Linked DNA regions of Homo sapiens. Each later gene encodes a partner of the first gene's protein in a complex. Each region holds a gene or a part of one and is shown in the gene's direction. Other genes may lie near its edges. The genes, in order: CALCRL, GNB1, RAMP1 and RAMP3.

Evidence for each region.
Region 2: the proteins of CALCRL (region 1) and GNB1 are in contact, whole or in part, in a cryo-EM structure (PDB 6UVA), measured with the Homo sapiens proteins. Residues at the interface, in NP_001258680.1 of Homo sapiens: Lys167, Ser168, Ile394, Arg397, Asn398, Gln401; in NP_001269468.1 of Homo sapiens: Arg52, Phe292, Ala309, His311, Asp312.
Region 3: the proteins of CALCRL (region 1) and RAMP1 are in contact, whole or in part, in a cryo-EM structure (PDB 6E3Y), measured with the Homo sapiens proteins. Residues at the interface, in NP_001258680.1 of Homo sapiens: Asn39, Met42, Thr43, Gln45, Tyr46, Glu47, Tyr49, Gln50, Lys51, Ile52, Met53, Gln54, Thr68, Trp69, Asp70, Gly71, Arg113, Arg119, Thr120, Phe228, Leu231, Ile235, Thr239, Val243, Ala244, Gln250, Trp254, Tyr255, Leu258, Phe262; in NP_005846.1 of Homo sapiens: Trp59, Ile63, Tyr66, Arg67, Ala70, Phe83, Trp84, Pro85, Asp90, Phe93, Leu94, His97, Gly98, Phe101, Arg102, Cys104, Pro105, Ile106, Ser107, Gly108, Arg109, Ala110, Val111, Arg112, Asp113, Pro114, Ile118, Leu119, Phe122, Ile123.
Region 4: the proteins of CALCRL (region 1) and RAMP3 are in contact, whole or in part, in a cryo-EM structure (PDB 6UVA), measured with the Homo sapiens proteins. Residues at the interface, in NP_001258680.1 of Homo sapiens: Arg38, Asn39, Met42, Thr43, Gln45, Tyr46, Glu47, Tyr49, Gln50, Met53, Trp69, Asp70, Ser117, Arg119, Thr120, Phe228, Leu231, Ile235, His238, Thr239, Val243, Val245, Lys249, Gln250, His251, Trp254, Tyr255, Phe257, Leu258, Phe262; in NP_005847.1 of Homo sapiens: Trp56 (codon at 2,637), Cys57 (codon at 2,640), Leu59 (codon at 2,646), Phe62 (codon at 2,655), Ile63 (codon at 2,658), Tyr66, Glu67, Thr70, Cys82, Tyr83, Pro85, Asn86, Pro87, Leu88, Gln90, Ile93, Thr94, His97, Arg98, Cys104, Thr105, Val106, Asp107, Arg108, His110, Leu111, Glu112, Asp113, Pro114, Val118.

The regions. Positions count from the first base shown.
Region 1 is NC_000002.12:187,341,458-187,347,273, reverse strand, and holds the end of CALCRL (calcitonin gene-related peptide type 1 receptor precursor), read left to right. Parts: intron 1-874; coding exon 875-1,090; 3' UTR 1,091-5,310; downstream 5,311-5,816. UniProt on the Homo sapiens protein: G protein-coupled receptor which specificity is determined by its interaction with receptor-activity-modifying proteins (RAMPs). Together with RAMP1, form the receptor complex for calcitonin-gene-related peptides CALCA/CGRP1 and CALCB/CGRP2.
Region 2 is NC_000001.11:1,790,070-1,797,096, reverse strand, and holds part of GNB1 (guanine nucleotide-binding protein G(I)/G(S)/G(T) subunit beta-1), read left to right. Parts: intron 1-3,785; coding exon 3,786-3,852; intron 3,853-6,500; coding exon 6,501-6,702; intron 6,703-7,027. UniProt on the Homo sapiens protein: Guanine nucleotide-binding proteins (G proteins) are involved as a modulator or transducer in various transmembrane signaling systems.
Region 3 is NC_000002.12:237,855,575-237,862,640, forward strand, and holds the start of RAMP1 (receptor activity-modifying protein 1 isoform 1 precursor), read left to right. Parts: upstream 1-4,048; 5' UTR 4,049-4,101; coding exon 4,102-4,153; intron 4,154-4,322; exon of another isoform or gene 4,323-4,633; intron 4,634-7,066. UniProt on the Homo sapiens protein: Accessory protein that interacts with and modulates the function of G-protein coupled receptors including calcitonin gene-related peptide type 1 receptor (CALCRL) and calcitonin receptor (CALCR). Required for the transport of CALCRL to the plasma membrane.
Region 4 is NC_000007.14:45,174,780-45,181,806, forward strand, and holds part of RAMP3 (receptor activity-modifying protein 3 precursor), read left to right. Parts: intron 1-2,529; coding exon 2,530-2,662; intron 2,663-7,027. UniProt on the Homo sapiens protein: Accessory protein that interacts with and modulates the function of G-protein coupled receptors including calcitonin gene-related peptide type 1 receptor (CALCRL), calcitonin receptor (CALCR) and G-protein coupled estrogen receptor 1 (GPER1).

The DNA.
Region 1 (5,816 bases):
ACATGGAAAAGTCCTCAACGTACTTGAGCTAGAGATGTATTTAAATGTTCTCATTTGTGCCCATTGACTGACAATGAAGAAAATTCACTCTTGTGCCTTACATTCCATTATGACCAATATTTTACTGTATAGGACCCACCTACCCCTGATCTCTAGCTTCAAACAGAGGGGAAGGAAGTCATTAAACTGCAAATTTATTCAGCAGAAGAGGATTCAAATATATAAAAATGGAGTGGTTACATTCCTAAATTTATTTTTCACAATATTCACCAGATTTATAATTATTTGTTCAACACTTTTCTTTCCTCTATGTAGTAAGCTCCATGAAGACAAATATCATGCTCCCTTTTTTAGAATGTAGCACAATTTCTGGCATATGGGAGTCACTCAGAAACAAAGGTTGCTGCTACTGCCCTGCTGCTGCTGCTGCTGATTTGTATTCTTCGTATCCTAACTTCTTTTCTTTTGTGTATCTTTCGCTTATCCTGTCACGAATTGTCTTCTCATTCTATTAATAAAGACATTAATATAAAACTCAATGTTGCACATGAAATCTTGTAAATGGGGGTCCAGATTACCTATTTGTTTGGCAACAATAAATACATATGAATTATAAAAGCTTTGAAGACAAAACATGCCATGAAAAATATTAATGGAATGTAAAGTACAATGTAATTGTAATACATTTCCTAATGTGAAGATGGTACACTTAATTTTTTAAATTAAGAAAATGAAGCTATATTATTCACTGATTAACATAACTTTTTTTAAAAAAGCTCTTCTCCAAGACCTATTTAATTGTGCTTCAAAAACAGTGTCTTCATTTCAATTAATGGGTTGTTCTTGTTCTTTCTGTTTTCCTTTTGATTGATAGGTTCAAGCAATTCTGAGAAGAAACTGGAATCAATACAAAATCCAATTTGGAAACAGCTTTTCCAACTCAGAAGCTCTTCGTAGTGCGTCTTACACAGTGTCAACAATCAGTGATGGTCCAGGTTATAGTCATGACTGTCCTAGTGAACACTTAAATGGAAAAAGCATCCATGATATTGAAAATGTTCTCTTAAAACCAGAAAATTTATATAATTGAAAATAGAAGGATGGTTGTCTCACTGTTTTGTGCTTCTCCTAACTCAAGGACTTGGACCCATGACTCTGTAGCCAGAAGACTTCAATATTAAATGACTTTTTGAATGTCATAAAGAAGAGCCTTCACATGAAATTAGTAGTGTGTTGATAAGAGTGTAACATCCAGCTCTATGTGGGAAAAAAGAAATCCTGGTTTGTAATGTTTGTCAGTAAATACTCCCACTATGCCTGATGTGACGCTACTAACCTGACATCACCAAGTGTGGAATTGGAGAAAAGCACAATCAACTTTTCTGAGCTGGTGTAAGCCAGTTCCAGCACACCATTGCATGAATTCACAAACAAATGGCTGTAAAACTAAACATACATGTTGGGCATGATTCTACCCTTATTGCCCCAAGAGACCTAGCTAAGGTCTATAAACATGAAGGGAAAATTAGCTTTTAGTTTTAAAACTCTTTATCCCATCTTGATTGGGGCAGTTGACTTTTTTTTTGCCCAGAGTGCCGTAGTCCTTTTTGTAACTACCCTCTCAAATGGACAATACCAGAAGTGAATTATCCCTGCTGGCTTTCTTTTCTCTATGAAAAGCAACTGAGTACAATTGTTATGATCTACTCATTTGCTGACACATCAGTTATATCTTGTGGCATATCCATTGTGGAAACTGGATGAACAGGATGTATAATATGCAATCCTACTTCTATATCATTAGGAAAACATCTTAGTTGATGCTACAAAACACCTTGTCAACCTCTTCCTGTCTTACCAAACAGTGGGAGGGAATTCCTAGCTGTAAATATAAATTTTGTCCCTTCCATTTCTACTGTATAAACAAATTAGCAATCATTTTATATAAAGAAAATCAATGAAGGATTTCTTATTTTCTTGGAATTTTGTAAAAAGAAATTGTGAAAAATGAGCTTGTAAATACTCCATTATTTTATTTTATAGTCTCAAATCAAATACATACAACCTATGTAATTTTTAAAGCAAATATATAATGCAACAATGTGTGTATGTTAATATCTGATACTGTATCTGGGCTGATTTTTTAAATAAAATAGAGTCTGGAATGCTATATTTGGTAAATATTTTAAAGACAACCAGATGCCAGCATCAGAAGTCTGTTTGAGAACTAAGAGAACAGAAACATCTATCATAAGATATATTTATTTTAAAAACACAAGGTCACTATTTTATTGAATATATTTGTTTTGATAACTCATACCTTAATAATAGGTGTGTTTGACATATTTCTTTTTTCATTTTGACAATGAACTCACATTCTAATCCAGAAATTTTAAACAACTACTGTGATAAATACCAATCTGCTACTTTTATAGATTTTACCCCATTAAAATATTACTTTACTGACTTTTACTATGTGAAGATATATAGCTTTGGAAATGTCCCAGGCTATTCAAGAAATATAAAAAACTAGAAGGATACTATATATACCATATACAATGCTTTAATATTTTAATAGAGCTACTGTATATAATACAAATTAGGGAAATACTTGAATATATCATTGAGAAAAAATTATTGTCAGATCTTACTGAATTATTGTCAGACTTTATTAAATAAAGATAGAAGAAAACCTTGCTAATGAATTAAAGTGAAATTTGCATGGGATTCAGTTTCTCTAATGTTATTTTCCGCTGAAATCTCTAAAGAACAAGAATGACTTCAATTAGTAAAAGTCAATTTTGGGAAAAGTCATGGGTATCTGTTTTTTAAGTGTGTCAATCTGATTAAAATGGATGAAACAAATTACTCATCATAAGTTGTTTCTTAAGCTGTCAATATGTCAATAGATGGTGAGTTCAGAACTTATTTCAAATTGCTAAGACAAATTATCTAAATTCGTAAGAATTAACATATAGAATGGTCTGGTCAGTACATTTATAATTTATCTATGCATGAAAAAGTATTGTTTTGTTTGAAACATGAATTTCATAGCAAGCTGCCATAGAAAGGAACGCAGGCTGTTCTAGACCTTCAACTGCCTAAATTATACAAAAATTCATTTTAATAAACTCAATTATTAGCTATTTATTATTCAAAGACCCATATTTAAATCCTTTGCTGACCATGTTGACATATATCAGCCTTCTTCTAGACAAACTGTCAACTCTCAACCATCTTGACAGTAGAAGTGACAGTAAAAAATGTTGAATGATCAGAGATTATATTAAAATAAACATGTAATTTTCAAGTATTTTTGTTGTGCTTTTATAATATTAATTCTAGATCAGATTTATTTTATAGCCAGGGTTTGTCTGTTGTAGAGTCTTGAGGCGTAGCAGTCATTCATGATTAATCACTGTTAGTTTTGTACCCATATATTTTTAGAATAGTTTTAAATGTTAGATTTCTCAAAAGCTAAATGCTACTTAATATCTTTGTATCATACTCATAAAGCAAAGTAAATCTGACACTTTTTTTAAAGCAAACTTCTTTGCTGTCAAAAAAATAAATTTGGGGAAATTTCTAGCTTTTAAAATGTAGATCTGCATTTTACTGTGATTACTTGTGAAAGTCATATTTTAATTTTCTAAATTCTAATTTGTCATTTTATTTCCTAAAGTTAATTTCCAATGCATTTATTCATAAAATATTCATTCTGGAATGCAGTGTTTGTTTAAATGTAATCCAATGTATATAGAATTAGTGGTGGCTGTAGTGCTGTATTTATTGCTTATAATTTTTTTTAAATGTGAACTTACTTTTAATTTTCTCTTGGTTTTAATCTGCTAGTAGAAACCACTAGTTATCTGTAAAAATATATTCAAGATATTCTGATCAATTATAACAATTTATGTTATGCCTAGAGTATATCTCTATTTTTTGATTGTATGAAAATATTAAAGTTATGAGTTAAAGTTTATTTTCACTGATATTTACTACAGTGCCAAATAATCTAATTTATAAACATAATTCTTACAGTAATCAATGGGATACTTCTCAAAATTAACAAATCTCTTAACAAAATATATCTTTTGCCCTCTTTAAAGTCTTCAGTAAACCAGTAAATGAATTCAATAAACCAATTAAGAAAAAGTCATGATTTGTTTTTCAAACTAAAAAAATCCAACTATACTACAATGGATGCAAACTCCTTCTTATGCTGAAAGAAGAAAAAGGATGTCTCAAAATAAGAAAATGTTCAGAAATTCATCTCCTTTATCTACTATATTTCATTTTGTAGTTTTGTTTAAATATTAGAAAGAAAAATAAGTATTTAAAGGTAATTTTTAAAGAGGGCATATTCATGGCTCTCACACAAATATAAAATGAAAATGTTTCAAAGATTTCGTTTAACTCATTAATTAATGAAGGAACAAGTAAGATGTTACAAAAATTCAAAGGAGAATTCAAAATATCACACTATATGAGAATATTAAAAATGTTGAAATAAATTTATAAATAAGTGCAAAACCACTCTATCCTTAGGGCAATAATCAGTTGCATTCCACTTAATAACTAATTTTTATTTTTATGATCAATAATAATGTACATCATTTTCTGTTTTCTGGAGAAAATGCCCATTTAAAACACTTGTGTTTTTTTCTTATAATCTCTCCTCCTTGTGATTATACTAATCTCAAAGAAAGAATATTCTTGATTAAAAATATTGCTAGTTTAATAAGGTTTGGCCTATTGTTGAGATAGGTACATGAGAGTGTTAATTACAATATAGACCTCCTCAAGTTGGTTTTACAAATCTAGAACCATAGTGCACTTTTTAACAGCTTCATTGAGATATACTTGACATATCATATAATACTTCATATTCAAAGCAGTTTTTAGTATATTAGTAGAGTATATTTTAATACATCCATAGAGACACGCTACCATCACCAATTTCATTACATTTTTATGACCTTGAGAAGAAACAGTGTATCCTTTAGCCATCACTTCTCTATCCCTCTATCTCTACTTTCATTTCAGCTATAAACATCACTAATTTACATTCTGTCTCAACAGATTTCCCTATTCTAGACTTTCATATGATTGTAATCATATAGTATGTGACCTTTTGTGACTAAATGATTTCACTTATGTTTTTAAAATTCATTCATGTTTTGGCATGTATCAATGTTTCCTTTTATTCCATTGGGTGAACATACCACATTTTATTTATTCATTTGTCTGTTGATGGATATGTTTGTTTTGCTTTTACCTTTTGGTTATTATAAATAATATACCTATAAACATTTGTTTGCAAGTTTTTGTTTGTAAAAAAGTTTTCATTTCTTTTCAGGACATTTGCAAAACAGCCAGATCATTTTACATTCCCACCAGCAGTGTATGAAGGGTTCTGAATTCTCCATTTTTCTCAACACTTGTTATTACCTGTCTTTTTTATTTTAGACATCCTAATGGATGTGAAATGGTACCTGGTAGTTTAATTTTCATTTCTCTGATGGTTAAAGATGTCAAGCATCTATTGGCCATGTGTAATCTTTTTTGGAGGAATATTTATTCAGATTATTGGTCCATTATTAATTTGGTTGTCTTTTTATTATTGATATATATATATATCAATATGTATATATATATAGTCTCACACACTCACATCTGCAAATATATATGTATAGGTCTCTTTTCAGATAATTTGCAAATACTTTCTCCCATTCTGTGAATTGTCTTGTCCCTTTCTTAATTGTGTCCTTTGATGCATAAAAGGTAACAATTATTTATTAAGTACATTTTTTTCT
Region 2 (7,027 bases), on another chromosome or scaffold:
TTCTTGGCTTTGCTGTCTTTGGGTCGGCAGCCATGCTGGGTAGAGCAGTGTGTGCACCCATGCTGTGCTCTTCCCAGAGCCTGGTGATCTGCTCCTTTCTAGACTCTGGACTCACTCTATCCTTGAGGCACCTCTGCTGACACCACATGCCCAGGAGCCCATCTTTCTCCTACGCTTCCACTCTCTGCCGTGCCTCTCTTCAAGCCACCCCCTCTCTCCTGGACTTTAACAGCCTTGTCCCTATAGCCAGTGGTCCCTATGAGACACAGGACAGCCCTTCACACCCACTGCCTATATGACCAGACCACTGCGAGGTCCCCAGGCCGCGTTTCAGCCTCTCCTTGAGGCACTTGGTGCCACCTTTGTGCCCTTGCACCTCCTCACTGGGTGCACACTTTTGTTCAGGGTCTGTTTTCCCTGCCCCTCTGCAGGCTTCCAGAGGGTGGCAGCACAGGCCCCCGCACCAGGGGAGGAGGGGCGTGTTTTCACCTGAAGTGTCCCCCCACACATACCCAGGGAATTTGTTCAAATTCAATAATAACAGAAATAGTAACTGTCTCCATTTACTGAGAACTTCTTATGTGCACAGACAGCTCTGCTCCTCCCATCAGTTCCCCAGTTACATGGGGAGGCTGGGACTTCTAAAAGAACTTAGAGGAATTTTCACTCTTCCTCAGCTGCCATGCTGACAGTGGAGCCCAGGTATTTCTGATTTCAGAGTCTGCAGTCTTCACCACTCGTGGCCTCTTGGCCAGAAGGCCCTACGAGGCTTTCCTGGAAGAAGGGGTTAGACCTGGTCTCTGTTCACAGACTGGGCCTCATGGAGTATGCTTGCACCCTGGGCATTGCACCACCCATCCTGCTCTCCAGCCGCACTGGACACACCTCACCCCCCAACCTGAACATGCACAGACACTTAGAGTGGCCTCTGGTTGGGCAGAACCATCTAACATAATACATATCTTATAAGAAAAAGTTGAACATCTCATGTAAATTATTGGACACTCCTGAAAATGAAAACACAGAATAGTTGTATGGGTACTTGGAGCATGGTTTTCCTATTAAATGCGTGTGTCTTTCAAACCATCATAAAGTCACAAAATTGTAAGTCAGGGGCCATGTGTGGCTTATACATTCGGTCATTCCCCTTGTCCTTCATAGTTCCTGTCAGCTGATGCTTGTCCACATCATTTTATCAGCGCTTGAGAGCTGTGATTTTAGGGTTCAGTCTCTGGTTCTTGGAGTAAGAAGCTGATGGATTCTGTGTAGCTTCACTACAGCCTGCACAGGGTGGGACAGAGAGGTCATCTTTGAGACCTATGAGGTCATGTTTTTTGTTTTTTTGAGGCAGAGTCTCACTCTGTTGCCCAGGCTGGAGTGCACCGCTGTGAACTCGGCTCACTGCAACCTCTGCCTCCTGGGTTCAAGCGATTCTCCTGCCTCAGCCTCTCGAGTAGCTGGGATTACAGACCCAGCACCCACCACCACAGCTGGCTAATTTTTATATTTTTAGTAGAGACGGGGTTTCACCATGTTGGCCAGGCTGGTCTCAAACTCCTGACCTCAGCCTCCCCAAGTGCTGGGATTACAGTCATGAGCCACCGCGTCCAGCCAAGGTCATGATTCTTTCATGCAGTAAACTTGGGAGTGCCTCCGCCTGGTCCCCTGTGTGAGATGCAGGCTGTGCTGAGGTCTCCATGACTCTTCTTTCCTGCCCTTCTGTGCTCACATTCAAACAGGCTAAGTGCTACAAGGCTCGGTGGCCTGGTCTGGATGGGCATCTGACGGGGTGGGGGTGCTTCCCTGAAGCAAGGGTGAGTGTGAACCAGGAAGCCAGTGGAGGAGGGCTCGGGTGGAGACCCGGGAGCATGACAGTGAGCTGCGGGGCACGACAGCAAGCTGCAGGGCACTACAGGGGGCGCCAGGTATGCAGGGCTATCCTCCTCTGAGCTGGACTTGGGTTCACCTTTGTGGTCCCTAGTGTCCCTGTGGTGTGGCCTCCAGGAAGTATTTGACCACGCATACTTTCGTAGGCACGTAGTTAATATTTTGAGCTCTGTCATCTATGCATATTTTTCTTCTGTCAGAGCCAGTTTAATAATGTTTGTTGGCCAGGCATGGTGGCTCACGCCTGTAATCCTAGCACTTTGGGAAGCCGAGGTGGGTGGATCACAAGGTCAAGAGATCAAGACCATCCTGACCAACATGGTGAAACCCCATCTCTACTAAAAATACAAAAATTAGCTGTGTGTGGTGGCGTGCACCTGTAGTCCCAGCTACTTGGGAGGCTGAGGCAGGAGAATCGCTTGACCTGGGAGGTGGAGGTTGCGGTGAGCCGAGATCACATCACTGCACTCCAGCCTGGCGACAGCACGAGACTCTGTCTCAAAAAATAGTGATAATAATGTTTGTTAAATAAATGCTTTGTTTTCTCTGTAATCTTACACTTTCTACATTAAAACCCCAGTGGGTTTCTTCTTTTGGTGCATTTTATTTTTGTTGTTTGCTGATTCACGCAGTGTCGCATGACTCCCTGGGGTGTAGTTGGGGGGAAGGCTTTTCAGTAAACACTCAAATCTAAACAGGTATCCCAAGAATCACCAGTGCCACTGGAACCCCTGAATCTTCAGATTAGGGCCAGTCTGTCACCAATCCTGGGCACACACTAACTGGTTTGTTGACCCTATGCTTTTAGTTCCACAGTAAATACCAGAACTGTGATCAATGTACAAAAGAAATAATGGTCAACAGAAGTCATTAACAACTTGAACTGCCGGGTTCAAATGATTCTCCTGCCTCACCCTCCTGAGTAGCTGGGATTACAGGTGCCCGCCACCACGCTTAATTTTTGTATTTTTAGTAGAGACCAGTCATCATGTGTGGATATTGCGGACTGATTTTTTGTTGTTGCTTTTCCTCATTTTGGAAGTTGTTTAGGACGGGGCATCTTGGTGTGTCCTGCTCTCGCCTCTGATGCTTCCTTCCCAGTGGGAGTGGGTGGGAATACTCAGAGACACAGAATTGTGCCCACGCTGATGTGGGTGTCACAGCCACTGTCCCCAAGAAAACAAACCCACCCACACATATTCACGAGCACCCCCGTGTCTGCAGTGTTGCTGCCATGCCGCGTTCCTGTTGCCTTCGTTATCCCTTCCATGACCTGCAGGCCCTTGCCACCCTGACCCTGTGGCCTCGCCGCCTCCTGCCCTGGCTGGGCCCTCTGTTTGGATCCTCCTTCTCTGAGTCTACTCTCGTCCTCCCTCCTCTCCTGGCTTCCATCTTGTGAGGCCCCTACTTTGTCCTCTTCCTTCCCCTAGCACTCCCTTTCTGATGTCCTCTTTCAGTGATTCTCATTCTCTGTCCCTGCTGAGCGTGGGCTGTAGGAGAGCAGGAGGTGTCTGTCTGGTTAAGGCTGCTTCCTGGGCACTGGAGTCAGCGTGCCCTGAATGAGTAAATAGACGAGGGATCCCCAGCCTTTGATGGGTCAAACAGTAAAGCAGATGAAAGATGTGTATGTTTCATGGGTGTGGTTTCTGCTTCTGCCCCCATCACGGAGCTGTGGGTCTCTGTGGGACGTGCTGTCCTGCCTGGCCAGGCTCTCACCCTCACCAGCAGTGCGTGTGGACCTTCTGCTGTGTGCACAGATGGGAATAAAAGGTCACTAGCATGGTGCTGGTCTTACCTTAGACGTAGAGCTTCCACCGGGCCAATGTGTTTCTCTATGTATGAGGCTGGGTGCAAGGCCTGCTGGATTCAGCTCATCACTTAGGCCTGTTCTTTGCCAGGTTACCTGTCCTGCTGCCGATTCCTGGATGACAATCAGATCGTCACCAGCTCTGGAGACACCACGTGGTAAGTACCTGACCCGGGGCAGGCAGTGCCTTGAGAACCCACAGCCCCTGGCACATTCCTCTGTGAACATGGAGGAAATAAGGTTCTTGACATAATATTAGGCCATCTGTAATTTAAGTGGCCTTAAGATTTAAAACACATAGTAGCAATGTGTGAATTCATTATACTTTTTTTTTTTTTGAGATGGAGTTTTGTTCTTGTCACCCAGGCTGGAGTACAATGGCTCAATCTTGGCTCTGCGACATCTGCCTGCCGGGTTTAAATGATTCTCCTGCCTCATCCTCCTGAATAGCTGGGATTACAGGTGCCCGCCACCACGCCTGACTAATTTTTGTATTTTTAGTAGAGACCAGGTTTCACCACATTGGCCAGGCTGGTCCTGAACTCCTGACCTCAGGTGACCTGCCCACCTCGGCCTCCCAAAGTGCTGGGATTACAGGCGTGAGCCTCCGTGCCTAGCCTCATTATACTTCTAATAAATTTACAAAGTTTAATTTTCAGCAGCTGAGAACTAAAATACACATTTTTTTCTTTTTTTTTTTTTTTTTGAGATAGAGTCTCTCTCTGTCTCCAGGCTAGAGTGGAGTGGCGTGATCTCGGCTCATTGCAACCTCTGCCTCCCAGATTCAAGCAATTCTCCCCTCTCAGCCTCCCGAGTAGCTGGGAACTACAGGTGTGCGCCACCACACCCAGCTAATTTTTGTATTTTCAGTAGAGACGGGATTTCACCACGTTGGCCAGGATGGTCTCTTATCCGTTGACCTCGTGATCTGCCTGCGTCAGCCTCTGAAAGTGCTGGGATTACAGGTGTGAGCCCCCATGCCTGGCCAACATAGATATTTTAACTACAATCAGGCTCAAAGTACCTGCTCTTCTTTTTTTTCCCCTCTATATATTTGTACCTCCTTAGGTGATGATAGGTGGGAGTAGGGTGGGTTTTGATTGTCCCTTTCTGATAGCATCATGTCATTGTGAACAATGAGCACAGACTAAAAATAACAGACGTCACAATTCAAGTGATTCCATCAGACTTCATTTTTAGTGTTTTCACCTTACAGGTAAACGGAAGCCCACTTAAATGCTAGAATTTTTTCATTTGTGGCATCAAAGTACTAAATTAAATGTCCAGATAGTTATTTTATGAGAGTCATTTTAGACTTCAGCTGGCCATGTGGGTTTTTCTGGTCTTCTGAGGCATGATTTGGTGGCAGGAGCTGTGCCCAGCCCAGGGCACAGACCCCTAGTCACGCAGTTGGTGGGGTTCACCGAGACATGGGCCCTTAACCAACTTGTCAGCAAAGCATCTGTGGTATTATAAGGTGTCCTCGTTGTATAAATTTCATAGATTTACAAAAGATTTGTCACCTAGATTGTCAATCTTGAGAAGACTTTATTTATTAGAAGATATTTTTAAAGTGCTTCTGTTCATTAATCATTTTTTTCAGACTCTTTTACGTATCTTGCTTCCCTTCTGCAGTCAGTCCCTCAGGCCCTAGAGAGGAGGCTCCCTGTGCAGTGTCTGTTGAGATTGGCTGATTGGATTTGCATTGCCAGGCCCAGCCAGGCTTTCCTCTGAGGCTGACATGAACGGACAGTGCTCTCTGGTGTTGCCTTCCATGGGTCGAGGCACAGGAGAATAGTATGTTGGTGGGCGTGTGGCCCTCACAGCTGTCCTTACACCTGAGCCAGGCTTCTGCTCTGTGCAGGGCTCTGTCAGCGTCTCACCTTTTGACAGCTTGTTAAGCAGAAATGTGATAGAATACCAGGTATGGCCGGGCGCGGTGGCTCATGCCTGTAATCCCAGCACTTTGGGAGGCCGAGGCGGGCGGATCACCTGAGGTCAGGAGTTCGAGACCAGTCTGACCAATATGGAGAAACCCCGTCTCTACTAAAAATACAAACAAAATTAGCCGGGCATGGTGGCGCATGCCTGTAATCCCAGCTACTGGAGAGGCTGAGGCAGGAGAATCGCTTGAACTCGGGAGGCGGAGGTTGTGGTGAGCCAAGATCGCGCCATTGCACTCCAGCCTGGGCAACAAGAGTGAAATTCGGTCTCAAAAAAAAAAAAAAAATACCAGGTGTGATCACTGAGAACTCAGCTGCTCTCCTGTTTGTGATTCCAGGAAAGGGCAGGAGGACCTCAGAATTGCTGTGAGCCATTTGTTTACCTGGCATTGGCCTTCTCCTGCCTGCCTTTTCTGAGACCCTGTGGAGGGGAGGCCAAGGGAGGGCACAGAGGGAGCAGCCACAGATAGAGTCGCGTCCCCTCCGCCATCCAGGGCCTCCACGTAGCTTCCTGCCACCCCTTCCATGCCCATCCATGACCAAAGAGGGGGCACAGCCTCAGTGGTGCTGCTTGAAAAGTGCCCCCAGCTCCCTGTTTGCTGGCATTTGAGTTGAGGTAGCGATCCCGTCATTCTGAAGCCCAGGCCCTGTGCTCATCTCTGTATAATTTTGCTTGCTTTGCTTTGTTTCCCTTCCAAAGTTGTATTACATTTAAATTTGTCTTTAAACAATTTACGTTTTTAAAGTAACAGTGCAGAGGCTCACTGTGGCCCTGGGTGGTTTGAAGGACAGATTGTCTGTCACATGACTAGCCACCCAAGAAGTTAAGGCTGATGTCCCCTTGTCATTCGCTCCTGCTCCAGTGCCCTGTGGGACATCGAGACCGGCCAGCAGACGACCACGTTTACCGGACACACTGGAGATGTCATGAGCCTTTCTCTTGCTCCTGACACCAGACTGTTCGTCTCTGGTGCTTGTGATGCTTCAGCCAAACTCTGGGATGTGCGAGAAGGCATGTGCCGGCAGACCTTCACTGGCCACGAGTCTGACATCAATGCCATTTGCGTGAGTCTGGGTGGAGGTGTGGGGTCGGGTCCTCTGCCGTCTCTGCTAGCCGTTCAGATTGCTAAATTTTAAACTTTTCTGGATTAGATGTTCTCCTTTCTGATCCTTATACAACCTCATGTACAGATGGGGATACAGAAAACTCCCGATGGGAAACTTCTCTGTGTTGACCACTTGTCTCACAGATACTCACAGGGTGTTGTATGCCAGTCCCCGTTCCCACCTCTACAGCTGAGCAGTGGTTGGGATCCTGGAGGGGAAAGACAGTAAGATAACTCAGGCCACCAGTGGTTACAGAGCCTTACTGGTCAGGGGCACAGCTAAC
Region 3 (7,066 bases), about 51 Mb from region 1:
AGTAATGCTGAGGACAGTTTTATATAGAATTTATTTTTCACTTCTTGTTTTTTGTTTGTTTTGTTTCTTGGGGGAATAGGGGAGATAGGCAACTTCTGTTCTCAGCTACTTGCAAGTGTGTTGGTTTTAACAGTGGGACTTCCTGCAGGACTTGAAAAATTGATAGTTGATGAACCTGAGTTCCCTGAGATACTGCTGTTTTTGTTAGTGTTTATCCAGCAATTGCACGATTTAAACAACTCACAGAACTAAGTTGTTATTGCTTATAAGCATGTTATCTTCAGAACCACTGATTCATTATTGATAATGATTGAAGTTCAGCCTTTAAATTGCAGGCCTGATAGTGAGGACACCAGTGGAGTCTTCCCCTTCATATCAGCAAGTTATTGAAAAACTATCTGTAGAATATTTGATGCTTTTTTCCTTCCAGTACTTAAAAACGTTCCATTGTATTCTGGTGGCATTATATCCCATGAGAACTCTTCTGTCACCCTTACCTGTGTTTTGTACATCAGCAGTCCCTAGCCTTTTTGGCACCAGGGACTGGTTTTGTGGAAGACAATTTTTCCATGGGGTGAGAGGGGGATGGTTTAGGGATGAAACGGTTCCACCTCAGATCATCATTCTCATAAGAAGTGCAACCTAGATCCCTTGCATGAACAGTTCACGGTAGGGTTAGATCAGCTACTGCTGATCTAACAAGATGCGGACCTCAGCTTCACTAGCTCACCCGCTGCTCACCTCCTGCTGTGAGGCCAGGTTCCTAACAGGCCATGATCTGGTACTCCTGTGGGGTTGGGGGACCCCTGCTATACGTAATGTCTTCTCTCTCTGGCTGCTTTTAAGGTTTTCTCTTTATTACTGGCTTTAGGCAATTTGATCGTGATGTGCTTTCACATATTTTTCTAAATGATTTTTGTGCTTGGAGTTTGGGGATGTTCTTGGCTCATGGGTTAATAGAAAATGTTCCACATAGTGGTTTTTCACATATTTCCCACCCATCTTCCTCCAGGGGCTCCAGTTACACCTTAGAGTTGCCACCTGGAGTTGCCTCATGGCTCTCTGATGCTTTGTTCTTTTATTGTTTTTAAGTTACGGGATGTAATAGCTACTTGGAAATCATTTGCTCCTGTTAGTTCTTGCTTTTAAGTTTTGTTAGGCAGCACCAGAATAGCCTTTGTAATTTTTACTGACTACAGAGAGGGACTTGCCCTTCTAATTATGCTCTGATGTTCTGTGTATTTCAAGATTTTTCCACTATGGTTGGTGGGAACTGGAACTATTCCCAGCTGGGTGTGGGCTCTTAGGCTCTTTTCCCTTGGGTAGTGTCCTTAGATGTGTGGGCTGAGACTCAAGTGGGACCCTCTGTGATCTCGCAAGCGCATTCTTTGCGCAGCTCTTTCCTCTCTGGTACTATGCCCTGCCAGCGTTAACTGCCTGGCTTCCCCAGACTCTCTTTGGGTTTCCTTTCTCCATCTGTGGTCTGCAAACTCCAGGCAGTGAGCAGTTGTAGCACTCACCTTATTTGTTTCCCTGCTCTCAGGGGTCCCTGCACTTCTTGTGGTCCACTGTGACAACTGTTGTTTCATACATTTTGTCCAGTTTTTTAGTTTAAGATGGGAAGGTGAGTCCAGTCCCTGTAACTTCATCTCGGCTGGAAGCAGGAATCTTATGTTAATAGTGAATTTTTAGCAGTGTTGACCAGGCTTTGATTGTATCTTTAGCCCTACTGTGTATGCAGTAAAGCACTTGGCCATTTTCTAATCTCTTCTATTGTTTAACCTAATGCCCCTCTAGATTGAGGTACCCTGGGAGAGGAATGATTTTCCATGCTACCTATGACCAATTAGAAATACAGATACATCAGACTACAACTTTTGAAGACGGGAAGCCCATAGTAGTTGCTAAGGAATGTCTTACTTAGACCCAAGGTACAGACAGGAAAATCATTAGGAGAGAACATGCCTCTAGGTGTGTGCCTTACTTCAGCATTCTCCAGAGAACTGTGAATTTCTAAAGCATGTGAACTTGAGAAATAGGCTTTGTCTTCTTAGGAAAATGTATCCTTTAGGGGGTGTTGAGAAAACAGCAGTGACAGGGGCCTCTGGCCTTGCCTCCTTGCAGTCAAGCTTCAAAGAGAAAACGTTGGGAAGAAAGACTCCTGCTGAGCCTGATGAAAGAGGAGTCCCAGTTGCCAACCAAAAACATGCAGCCAAAGTCCACAAGCTACAAGTAGAAAGGGTGGCTCAAGCCAGAGTCCCTGGATATGGAGGGCGAGTGATGGCTGCAGAAAGATGCAGGTTCTTCTCCCCCACTATGACTGGCCATCGCCTAGTGCAGGATGTACGGTGGCCCTGTCCCAGGGCTGTGCTGGCAGCCACCCTTCCCCACTAGCTGTGCTGCTCTCACATGGCACGGCCTCTGGCTGCCAGGCCTGTGCTCGGGCCTGCATTTCCCTTGTGCCCTTCTCTCCACCCAGCCCTCAGGACTGCCTGGGCTGCATTTTGTCCAGAATCCTTTGTCTCCTTACTTGCACTGCAGCTGAGGCGAGTGTCCCTTGTTCCGGGTGGCTCCTGTATTGTGGCGCTCATGTTATTGAGAGTCTTAGAGGTCACCCCCTAGATTCACCAATTGAAGGGCAGGGCTTGTCGATCTAACAGTGTCTTGCACATAGGGACACAAATGTCTGTTAAATGAAGAAAGTAGGGATGCCAGGCCACCCAATGGGGTGTATCTCCTAGGGTTCAAGAACAAGGGCTAATCAAGTCAAGAGAATGTGTGCCCTCCCCCACCATCTCACCCCTCACTCTCAGAACACTTGGGGCCCCTGCACAGGTGGTAGGCATGCTGGCCCTGAGTGCCCTCCCAGCCTGTGTTAGAAGAACCAGTGGATGACCTCGCTGTCAGCTGTCTCCCCTTCTCTGAGCTTACTGCAGGTGGCAGCAGCCTCTCAGCCACAGACTGTTCCCTTTCCTAGGAGAAAACGATGGTCACTCAGCAATGCTGTGCGCTTGCAGCTTCCACCACAAAAGAGACAGCTGTGGCCGCAGCACCAGGGTGGTGATTCTTCCCCCTCCAAGGGCAGTGGTGCATTCCTTAGCACAAGTATAAATTTACTGTTGCTAAGAGTTCTCGGAACAGGATAATACAAGAAGGAACCACTGCAAGTGAAATCCAGCCACCAGTAATGCCGAGAGGCCAGGCCTGTGCCTCCCAAAACCTGCTCCTCCGCAGGCTTCCCCGGCCCATCTCCAGAGCGCCCTCCTCTCACCACTTTACATAAACGAATGTACCCAAGATCCCCCATCAGTTTTCCATGCAGCTGCCAGAGTGCCACCAAAGCAAACCTCATCTCAAGACTCTGTGGCCAGGCCCTCACAACCTCCTGCCAGGCTCTCGCTACCTACCCATCAACAGCAAGACTCCCAGGCCATCTCAATCCCCCCAAAGAGCCCTGTTCCTCCAGCCCCACGGCTTCTGTTCACCTGCCGTGCTGTCCCCGCCTCTGCCCACCCACTCATCCTGCAGATCTGGAGCAGCATTCCAGGGCCTGGTAAGTGTGCGCCATTTTGGGTTACTACGGGTCTCGCCAGGCGCGGTGGCGAGTTTTGCCCCCCACGCTCCCCAGCGCCTGCACCTGGGCGGAGAGGTAGATAAGGCTGGGAGATCTTAGCCTTTTGCAAGGCAAACACCAGGCAGGAACGCCCAGAACCTCGGAGGAGGAGGAGGGGAAGATCCCCAGGTGGAGACCAAGGTGCCCCTCACGCTGAGTCGTCTAGGAGACCCTCCCTAGTTTAAAAAGTGTTTATTTGCTCGGAGAACATTTCAGGAGGCCTTCCTGGGACCCCAAGTGTGCCGCCCCCCGGGAGGGGCCTGGAGACGCCCGCGCGGCCCCCCTGCAAAGTTTTACCGGCCCTGGGCGCCCCCGGCCCTGGCACCCACGCGGGGAGCCGCAGTGGGCCGGGCCGCGCGGCCGCCGCCTCCCACCGCTCCCGCGCCCGCTCCCGCCCCCGGCGCGTCTCCTCCGGGCCCGCGCCGCGGCGGGCTCAGTCCTCAGCGGGGCGCGTGGCGAGCGGACTCGACTCGGCACCGCTGTGCACCATGGCCCGGGCCCTGTGCCGCCTCCCGCGGCGCGGCCTCTGGCTGCTCCTGGGTGAGTAGGTCCAGGGGTCCCGGCCGAGCTCCCTTCCCCTGGCCAGCCGGTGTCCTCTAGGGGAGAGGAGGGGAGCGGGTGGGAGCGGGTGGGAGCGGGTGGGGGCGGGCGCCGCGGGCGCACAGATCCGCTGCCCTTGAACGCGGGCCGCCCCGGTTCCAGGCGGGAGGCCCCAGGGCACAGGGGAGGCGGAGGGCGCGGACCGGTGTTGCGCTTCTCGCCGGGGAAGGGACGGCTTTGGGGACGTCGGAGAGCGGGCATTCTGGAAAGCGTGGGGTGAGTCAGCCCTGCACACTGGAGAACTAGTTTTCAGAAGGAAAAACAGGACGCGGGGTTCCCCAGCCCCGCACCTCGTTTCTCAGGCTGTGCGCCGCGGTGACTGCCAGCGCAGGCTCCCTTCCCTAGGCCGTCCCGCGTTGCAAAACCTGCAGACGGGCACCTTGCAGAAGACGCAGTGTTCGGGAATCAGAACCACAGCCGGTTTGTATGGAAATTAGTCAACACTGACAATCTGTCGCCTGCAGCAGTTGCTTGTTTGCAAATCACGTCTTTTGCAGAAATGAGGCCAGCCCTTTTCGGGACACTTCCATCGCTTTTTTTCTTTTTTCTTTTGGTTTGCTTGTTAACTTGGCACTTTTGGCTAATAGAAATTTAAAGAAGGACGGGTCCCTTGGTGAAGTGGTGGAACACGTTTGGCTTTCCACTTGGAGGGAGAAGTGGAGATTAGCGGCAGCCTCATGGCCACAGGAACTGGCCACACACTCGGCAAGAAACGGTGCTGTTCACTTCCCTTGTCTGTAATGTGTTCCTAAAATGCTAACTCAAGCCCCTTCTAAACCGCTTTGGCTATTGCATTATTCCGTGTATTTAGCTACCTTTTAACGGAAACTGTGAATAGGTTACTGGCGTGGGAGAACCCAGTGTCCCTGGGAAGGCCGGAGCAGTTGTTTCTGGTATGTGTGGCCTTTCCCCGGAAACAGTGATGTTGGTCAGAGGCACCTGCCGCACAAGACCTCTTTGGCGCTGGCACTGGGCAAGCAGGGACCACCGGCGCTGTTGTAGCTGGGGGAGTGGTTCGTGGCCCAGCGAGGAGAGGGGCCAGGGCTTCTTGGGAGCCATGGATTTCTGTTCCCTATTTGTAAACCTCTCCAAGGGGTGGCAGATCTGCATAGAATCCTCAGAGGCCGATATAATATAATCTGAAAGCGGATCTTGCCACTTTAGAGTTTTGGCTGAAGTTACGTGGAAAGCAGAATCTCGCAGTAATTTTATTCTCTCCATTTGGCTTGACATGGCCTTCACTGTTTTCATTTACTAAGAAACAAACATTTCTTTGTTAGCAAGGCAGAGAGCTGGGTTGTGGAATATTTTTTACATAAATAACCAAATAAATAAACGTTCTTTACTAGTGTCCAGAGGCTGAACCCTCTAAAGCTTGTGTAAATAAAACACTATGTCACGATCACATATAAAGACCTTCCTTGTTTACCGAGAAAACTATTCATGTTCTGCCGAAAGTCCAAAGTCCTGTAATTTTAACGTTATTTTGAGTGGCCTGGCTAATGTTATCTCTTGGAAGAACAAACAAAACTTTATGAGGTTATCAGTAAATTAATGTCATTGGAGCCCAGCTGTAATTAGTAGAATTACTGAGCACAGGCTGTTTCCTTCCCAAGCTGTAGCACTAGCCAGGTCTCCTTGGTGATGAAGATTTTGCTACCAAGAATGGCAATGTGGAATTTTTTTAAGTACTCTAGTTTACAGGTTTAAGAACTTATCTGTGACAATTTTACAATCAAGCTATTTGTCTTAGGTAGTTATTAAGAATCTCATAATCCGGCCAGGCATGGTGACTCACGCCTGTAATCCCAGCACTTTGGGAGGCTGAGGTGGGTGAATCGCCTGAGGTGAGGAATTCAAGACCAGCCTGGCCAACATGGTGAAACCCCGTCTCTACTAAAAATACAAAAAAAATTAGGCAGGCATGGTGGCAGGCACCTATAATCCCGGCTACTTGGGAGGCTGAGGCAGGAGAATCGCTTGAACTCAGAAGGCAGAGGTTGCAGTGAGCTGAGATCATGCCACTGCACTCCAGCCTGGGTGATAAGAGTGAAACTCCGTCTCAAAAAAAAAAAAAACTTAGGATCCATATATAGTTCTTTTCCCTCTGAGCATCCTGTGTACTCTTCTGTTTACTGGAGACTCTACATGCATTCTGAAAAGTTTGTGTATAGACACCGAAAAGCTGTTCGTTAACCAGGAAAGAAGGATGCGTTAGAAGCCCCTGGTTTTTCGAGTCCATCTTCACTCAGGGAATGCTGGCTGGTGCTGTCACACATGAACTCAGTCACCTGTCCTAGGAAACGCATGCCTTCCTTGGCTGTCACGTGGGAGCCAGGGGTTTTTTTAATGGCTGCAACATTAATTGAAATGTATGACTTTATATAAATACAAGTAGAATTGGAATGACAGGGACATCACAGGAAATGCTATGTGACTGCTTCAGATTGCCATGCGGTTTTAAATCTGGACACAGTTCTCATGCCAAAGTCCAAATCTGAAGGATTCTTATTTGTTAATCAACTCAGTGTGTTTGTTTACCCTCTCTGTGTGTCTAGCTGCAGGAAGAAATTTCTGGATTTTTGTCTTCCTTCCACAGGCGCATGCCTGTCAGCGTGCTTATTACCAGTCCGAGGCCAGGGCTGTTGAGAAACATTTATATCCACAGTGCAAATGGTAGATTCAGCTCCGGGAAATGTTTTAGGTGGAATCTTTAGTTAAGGCTAGTTGGAAAAGTCTGTCCTGATTTTTTTCCCCAGAATGCGCCCATTTCATAGCTTCTAATCAGTTACAACTGGCGTCTGGCTGACTGTGTGATGCAGGTGCCATGTGTAGTGTGAATTCCAGCGGAAA
Region 4 (7,027 bases), on another chromosome or scaffold:
CTGAGATCCCTGTGTCTTCCTCTTGCCCCCTGGAACCCAGATGGCAGGTCCTGAAGACAGGAACCAGACCCTCTCCCTCTCCCCTTGTCCAAGGATCCAACACAGTCCGCAACACATGATAGCGGTGGTCCAGGATGTTTTGCTAAATCTTTGGATAAATTTCACTGGGTTGACAGTGGGTACTGAGCCACCATCTCCATGTGCAGACCCTGTGGGACCATGTGGGGGACCTGTGCTACATGCAGGGATGGGACAGACACAGAATGAGCACATGGCCTTTCTGTGAAGAGAGGTGAGCACCCCAGAGGCTCACTCAGGGGTTGGGGCCCTAAGTGGGATGTGTGGCCTTTCAGAGAATCCAGGCCTGCAGCTGTGCTGATGAGACAAGCGAACGTGGGGGTCAGGGACATTCCAGGTGCTGGAAACCATGCAGAGTGGCCAGAAGGCCCTGAAACACCTGTTCTGGGAGAGCCAGTCACTGACCCTGTGTCCAGGGGCCATGGTGGTGACTTCACCCAGCCTGTGTCCTTGCCATCTGCTTACACATGGCAGCAGGCTGACCACTGAGCCACAGCCTGTGTGCTTCCCATCTCCAGGGTTCTCTGGGGCCTCAAGATGCCCTGGGTCCTGGGGAAGCTTGCATGGACAGAAGGGGAGATGTGAGTGCCTACACAGGCTTCTCAGACCACCTGCTGGGACCTGCAAGTCCTCTGTCCAACTTTACCAGCTGTGACCCCCAGGGGCCCTTCTCAGTGCTGTCAGCCTGGATTCTGAGGTATAGGTTTGGGCAGTCACGAAGGGAAGAAGGTGCCTTGAGTCTGGGAACCCACGACCCTGAACAGCTGGCAAGCCCTTTTGTGTTCTCCTCTGTGGGGTTCCAGCTAACACCTGTCCTCTGTATGTGCTCCAGGTGTTCTGCTGCAGGTGGGGGTGGGCTGAGCATGACAGTTCCCTTAACCCTGGGATCTGGACCCCTCCAGCCTTCCTTTGGCCTTAGACAAGCCACTCCCTTTTGCTGGCATCAGACGCTTGTTCAACCAAGGGGCTTCCAGGGTCTTCCCTAATGTTAGCATTAAGCAGGCTATGACTCTTGAGGAGTGTCTGGGGCGCTGTGTTCTGGTGGAGCAGGTCCCTGCACCAGAAAGTGGTCCTGTCTAAACCTGCCATTTCCATATTAAAGTGACTTATTCAGCACTTGCTCAGTGCCCAGGGTGAGCCACACATGGAAGAAGATCAGACTCTGAAATGCTCACTGCTTTCTCTATCATTCAGCCAAGACTTATTGAGGGAATGAATGAATGATACGTTCCTGGAGGTGGCACTGAGCATTTCAGACTAAGTTAGCCAGCTCAACCTCCTTGTGAGGTGGGGCCTGTATCCCTCATCTTGCGGATGGGGAAACTGAGGTTGAGCTGGTAACCAGTGAAGTGTGGGTGTGAGCCAGGTCTGTCCCATGTCAATCTGGAACCATTTTCTTATCTGCTTCTTCATGGTATTTCCTCTAGCCCAGCACCAGCCGCCGGAACACAGATGACAGGGCTGTGTACACACATGCTCATGTATGCATACACATATGCACTAAGATATAGATGGCAGGGCTGTGTACCTACACACACACACACACACACACACACACCAAGACACAGACAGCAGGGCTGTGCGTGCACACACACACACACACCCGAGACACATATGCCTGGGGTCTCTCTTGAGTATATGATGAGCACCAAAGCAGAGGTCAGGTGAGGGAAGTTTAGGAGCAGGGAGGTCCTGTCGTCTGGAAATGGGATGACCGTGGAGACAGGCCCTGAAGGACAGGGGGCATTGCTCAGTGGGAGGGAGGATGTTCCCCATGGGGAAATGTGTGGAGCAAAGGCATGAGGAGGAAGGGGAGGGGATGTTTTGGTGGGCAGAGGTTGGGAAGGGCAGTGGGGAAATCCTGGGACAAGCAGCTTGTGTCAGACCCTGAGAAAGTCCAAAGGACTCATTCCCATTGCTGGGAACATGAGTCCCTGCAGTGGCCTCAGCCCCTGGTTTCCCAGAATTGGAGGGGGTCTTTGACCGGGAGGGGTTGGTCTTTACTGGCCTGGAGCCCTCCTCTGCCGCCCCTGCAGGCAGTGGGATGGTCCCCAGGTCTTAGAGTCCTCAGGATGTTCCCAGGCCCCTGGGACTCCTAAGCTGGAACTGGAGCCTCTTTGCCAGCCCTGATCTGCCTGAGACCCTCTCACCACCTCCCAAGGAGTTTGGCCCAGGGTCTCACTGCCTGATCCCTGCCTGTGCCACTGCCTGTGAGGCGGTGAAGTGAAAAGGTGGACTTGTCCTGTCTTGGGGACAGGTCCCTGTGTGGAGCCTCCTTTCTGCACTGACAGGTAGGTCAGGGTGGAGGGTGAAGGACTCCGCTGGAACGGTCTCAGGCTTGCAAACGGAGCCTTGCTAGTGAGTACTCAAGTTATGGCCCCTTGGGCCTCCCCTGTCCTGGCATCCCCAGTGTGAACTGTAGTGGAATTCTTATGGCTGTCCCCTCTCCAGGTGGGTGTCCCAGAGCAGGCGGCTGCAACGAGACAGGCATGTTGGAGAGGCTGCCCCTGTGTGGGAAGGCTTTCGCAGACATGATGGGCAAGGTGGACGTCTGGAAGTGGTGCAACCTGTCCGAGTTCATCGTGTGAGTGCCACTGCTGGGCGTGGGATTTGCTCTGACCACAGCGCTGCCCACTGCCCAACCACTGCCTGACCACAGCCTGACCGCACTCTACCCAAGGCCTCACCCATGCCTCACCCACAACCCACCGTAGGCCACCCACAGCCCTTTCATGTGCTGCCCCACACTTTGCCCAGGGCCCCAACCACGCTCCTATTCACACTCTGCTCTTGGCTCTGGCCACCCCACCCACATCCCCCTGGCACATCACTCACGGCCCCGCCCATGCCGTGCCCCTGCCCACGGCATTTGTGCTCCCCACACCCACAGCGGGTTCCCAGCTTCCTACCCCCCATTCCGCATCCTCACTCTGATGTTCTAGCAATTCTACACTGTGCCTCTGCTTCTCCCTCTCCTCTGTTATTTAGGAATCCTCCCCATGCCTGCTTTTCCTCCTGATCCAGATTAGTGCCCTGCCCTGGGAGTGTCCAGTTCGGGGGTTCCCTGGCCTGGGGGTGCCCTGTCTGGGAGGTGCTCTGCCTGGAGGGTGCCCTGCCCGGGGAGTGTCCAGTTTGCGGGTGGCCTGGCCTGGGGGGTGCACTCTCCCAGGGGTGGGTGCTGCCCTACCCCAGGGGGTGCCCTGGCCTGGGGGATGCCTTGCCTGGAGGGTGCTCCACCTCTCCTTACAGCTGGAGCTGGGTGGACATTGTCATGTGTCTTTCTTACAGCACCAGTCATGGCTGGGTCTGTCCTCAGTGGTCAGAGGACTTAGAGGAATTGGGTTCCAATGGTTTATATCAGGTGTAATTGTGGACAACACCTCATAGTGAAGGGAGGTCCCCTTGTTCTAGAAGCTTCCCAAGCTTTTCATCTCCTTACCTCCTTGGAAATTGCTCATGGCCTCACAGTCCTCTGCCCCACCCCACTCCACCTCTGGCTTTGCAGTCTTGTGCCACCCCCTGGTGGCTGCTGCCAGACCCTAAATGTGCTGGCCTCATGCTTTTGCATGTTAGCACCCCAGCCCCTGTCTTCCGTAGAGACACTGACCATGGCCCTGCCCCAGGAAGCCTCCCCGGCCCTGGCCATTCTAGTGGCCCAGCAGATGGGGGCTTCTTGAGGCTGTCACATCTGCAGCCCCACTCTGTGGGGGAACTGCTTGCTGAACCAAGTGGAATGGAATTCTGAGTCTGCTGGGAAGGGGTGCTGGGATTCAGGAAGGGGTTTTGCAGGCTCCTCCTGGTCCTCAGTGAGCCTGGACACAGGCCTGGAATGGACCCACTGGTGGGGGTGGAGTCAGGGAAGAGGAGGTCATAGCTTCGTAGCTTCTGGTCTTGCTCCTCTCTGTAACCCGCTAAAGCCTTGGTAAAGAGACTAAATAGAGATGTCCAGCCGTGGATTGGGAGGACAGGAGTGGAGGCAACCCGATGGGCATTTAGGAGCCAGTGAGTGAGTGGGCAAGAGCCACTGACTGAGTGCCCTTGGTGAAGTCAGACCTGATGCTGGAAAAGGGGAGCTGGGAACAGCCAGGTTGACATTGCGGAGCCCTCCCACGACCCGGCCGGCAGCACCAGCTCCCAAGAGAGTGGCAAGAGTAGCTGAGAAGCAGTGAGGTGTCCAGAGCCCTCCTCCACCCCAGCTGGACACTGGAGGTGTATTCTTGGAGCTGGTGACACCAGGGTTTCTGGGCCTTCCCATGTAATTGAGAACGTGGCACAGTGTCCCAGAGAGGGAGGCTGGAGAGAGCGGCTGATACGCATTATCTTTTGCCACTGGGTCCAGGAGGGTGGTCTAGGGTAGGATTGGAGCTGTCCTTTCTGAGGAGTGAGACCAGCCAAGAGGAAGGACCTAGAAGCAGTGACCCCCCCAACCCCTGGAAGCTCTGGGGACAAGCTCTTCTGCAGGGTCCCAGTGTCTCATCAGCTCTCAGTCCCCACTCCCAGTCACGAGTCACTTCCAAGCAGGGTCCCTGGAAATCTGACCTAAGGCTCTGACCCTGAAGGACAGAGACCAGAGAGATGGAACCAAGCAAACCCGGGGGCCATGCACCAAGAAGAAAACTGCAAACGTCACGACTGATATCTTCAGAGGGCAACAACTATCTCTCATGTGATGAATGAGAACAAAGAAAGAGGTTTAGAAATGGAAGATGCAATAGAAGTGAAATGGAATAGAAAGGTTGGAAGGGAGATGTTGAGGAAATCTCCCAGGAATAGGAGAGAGAGACAGAGAAGATGATCAGGAGGTCAGTGGTCAGTCCAGGCGTAACACCAAGATAGTAGGAATTCTAGAAAGAGAACAGGAGAATGGAAGGATAAAGGGCCCTTGCCAGGGGCTGAGGGCATGAGCTTGCAGCCGGTGAGGGCTTGCCCGGTACTAGCACGAGGGAGGAAAATGTCCCACATGGACCCTGGAATATCAGAGCTGTGGAAACAAAGGAAAACTTCTACACCTATCCAGAAGGAGGAAAAAAATGAGCTCTAGGTTGGAGATGAGGGGATCAGAGGCCTTCAGGCTCCCCCACCGCAGCCCTGGAAACCGAGGACTGTGGGATGCAAGGACCTGAGAATTTCGGACTGTGATTTCTCAGCTAGTGTGCTATTTCCCGCCAATTTGTCCACTAATTAGGGAGAAACGAAAATACTGTCAGACGTGTGGCACCTCCAGCATCTGATTCCCACATACCTTTCTCAAGCTCTGGCGGCTGTGCGCCAAGGTGTGGAGCAAACCACGACAAAAGAAGCTATGAGATTTGGGGAGCGGAGCCAAGGCAGGAGAGGGAAGCCCCAGGGAGGGCGGTGCCCCAGCGTGGCAGTACACCCTGGGTGGAGGCAGCCTGGCCCAGGTGGAGGGCACTTGATGCTTACCTGACATGGTGACTGCCTGCCCATGCCCTGCAGCCCAGCTCAGTCAAGAATGAAGGACACTCCTTTCTTTCCCCTGAATGTTCATTCTGCTTTGGTCCCCACTGAAGCAGGGTGGGCCTTGGTGAGCTTAGAGGAGAGGTGGCTTGCTCCCCTCAATAGGACTGGTCCACATGACGACCCCATCAGGAGTCGAGTCATGGCTGGGAAGACCCTATTCCCCAAACTCGCCCATGGCCTGCCTGTGGCCTTCCCTGGGGAGGAGTCTCATTGCCCCTCGGGGCAACCAGAGCGTGTCCTCTCCTGGGAACCTCCCTCCAATAGCAGCAATGGGCTCCTTCTGTACCCAGTTAAGGAGCATTGCTATGGGATTTCCAAATGCAACACTATATTGCCTGGGAACACACTCAGGTGGTGAAACATAAAGGAAGGTGGGCAAACACCCCAGAGGTGGGTGGGGGGAGAGGGAGTCTGACTGGGGGGTTTGCCCGGCTTCCAGCCTGCTGGGCTCCTCTCCTTCCCATCCTGGGTTGTGGTGCATCTTTTTTAGGGAGAGTGCTCTGGGGAGCCTGACTGAAGGAGGAGTGGAGAGGCCCCAGATTATCCAGGGGATGAATAAATCATAAGTAGTTCCCGGTTTTCTAGAGAAGCACTGAATGTGGACCTCTCTAGATATGTGACAAAAATGCAGATTTTGTGGATCCACAGAGATGGGTGCTGTGCTCAGCTCTGCCCCAAACCTAACAGCTGGGGTGGGCTCACCCCATGACCTCCTCTGTGCCAGGCACTTGCTGGGGCACATGGACCTCAACTCATTTGGTTCTCTCAACCACCTGATAGGATAAGTGTTATTAAACCCACTTACAGATGAGGAAACTGAGGTCCAGGGAGGATAAATGACATGGCCCATACCACAAAGATGGTGAGTGGCTGAGCTGGAGTTGGAGAGGCCCTGCCATGTTGGCTCTGCAACCTGAGCCTGAAGCCACTGTCCATGCTGTCTTCTGGGATTACCTCTGCTCCGTGGGCTTCTCCATGTGGCCTAGCTTTGGCTGGGAGTGGGGTTTGGGAACAGCAGGGGCTTTCAGCCCTGCCTCACCTCCTCTTGGGACGGTTCTGGGGCTAGACATCACTCCTCTTGCCCTGTAGACTCGCTGTCCACAGAGGGTCTTCTCCAGGGTCTGTCTGGCTCATCTCAGCCCTGGGGATGGTTGTTGGGGGGTGGCATTCCTGGGTAGCAGTTCAGTGGAATGACTTTGGAGGCACAGAGGTTACCGCATGTGATTCTCATCACACACATAGATGCTGGGAACTTCTGAAGGTGAAGGCTGTTGCAGGGTGTTGTTAGACGGCTCCCCAGCTCCTGGATCAGCTGGCGGGGGGTTGGGGTGGACAGCAGGCTACTGAATCTGAGGCCCTGTGGGAGAAGCAGGTCAGGGAAGATGAGGGTTTGTCCATGGACCTAGCTGTTGAGGTGTCTCTAATGCCTGGGCATGTCTCAGGTGCTGCATTGTGGCTGAGGCCCAGG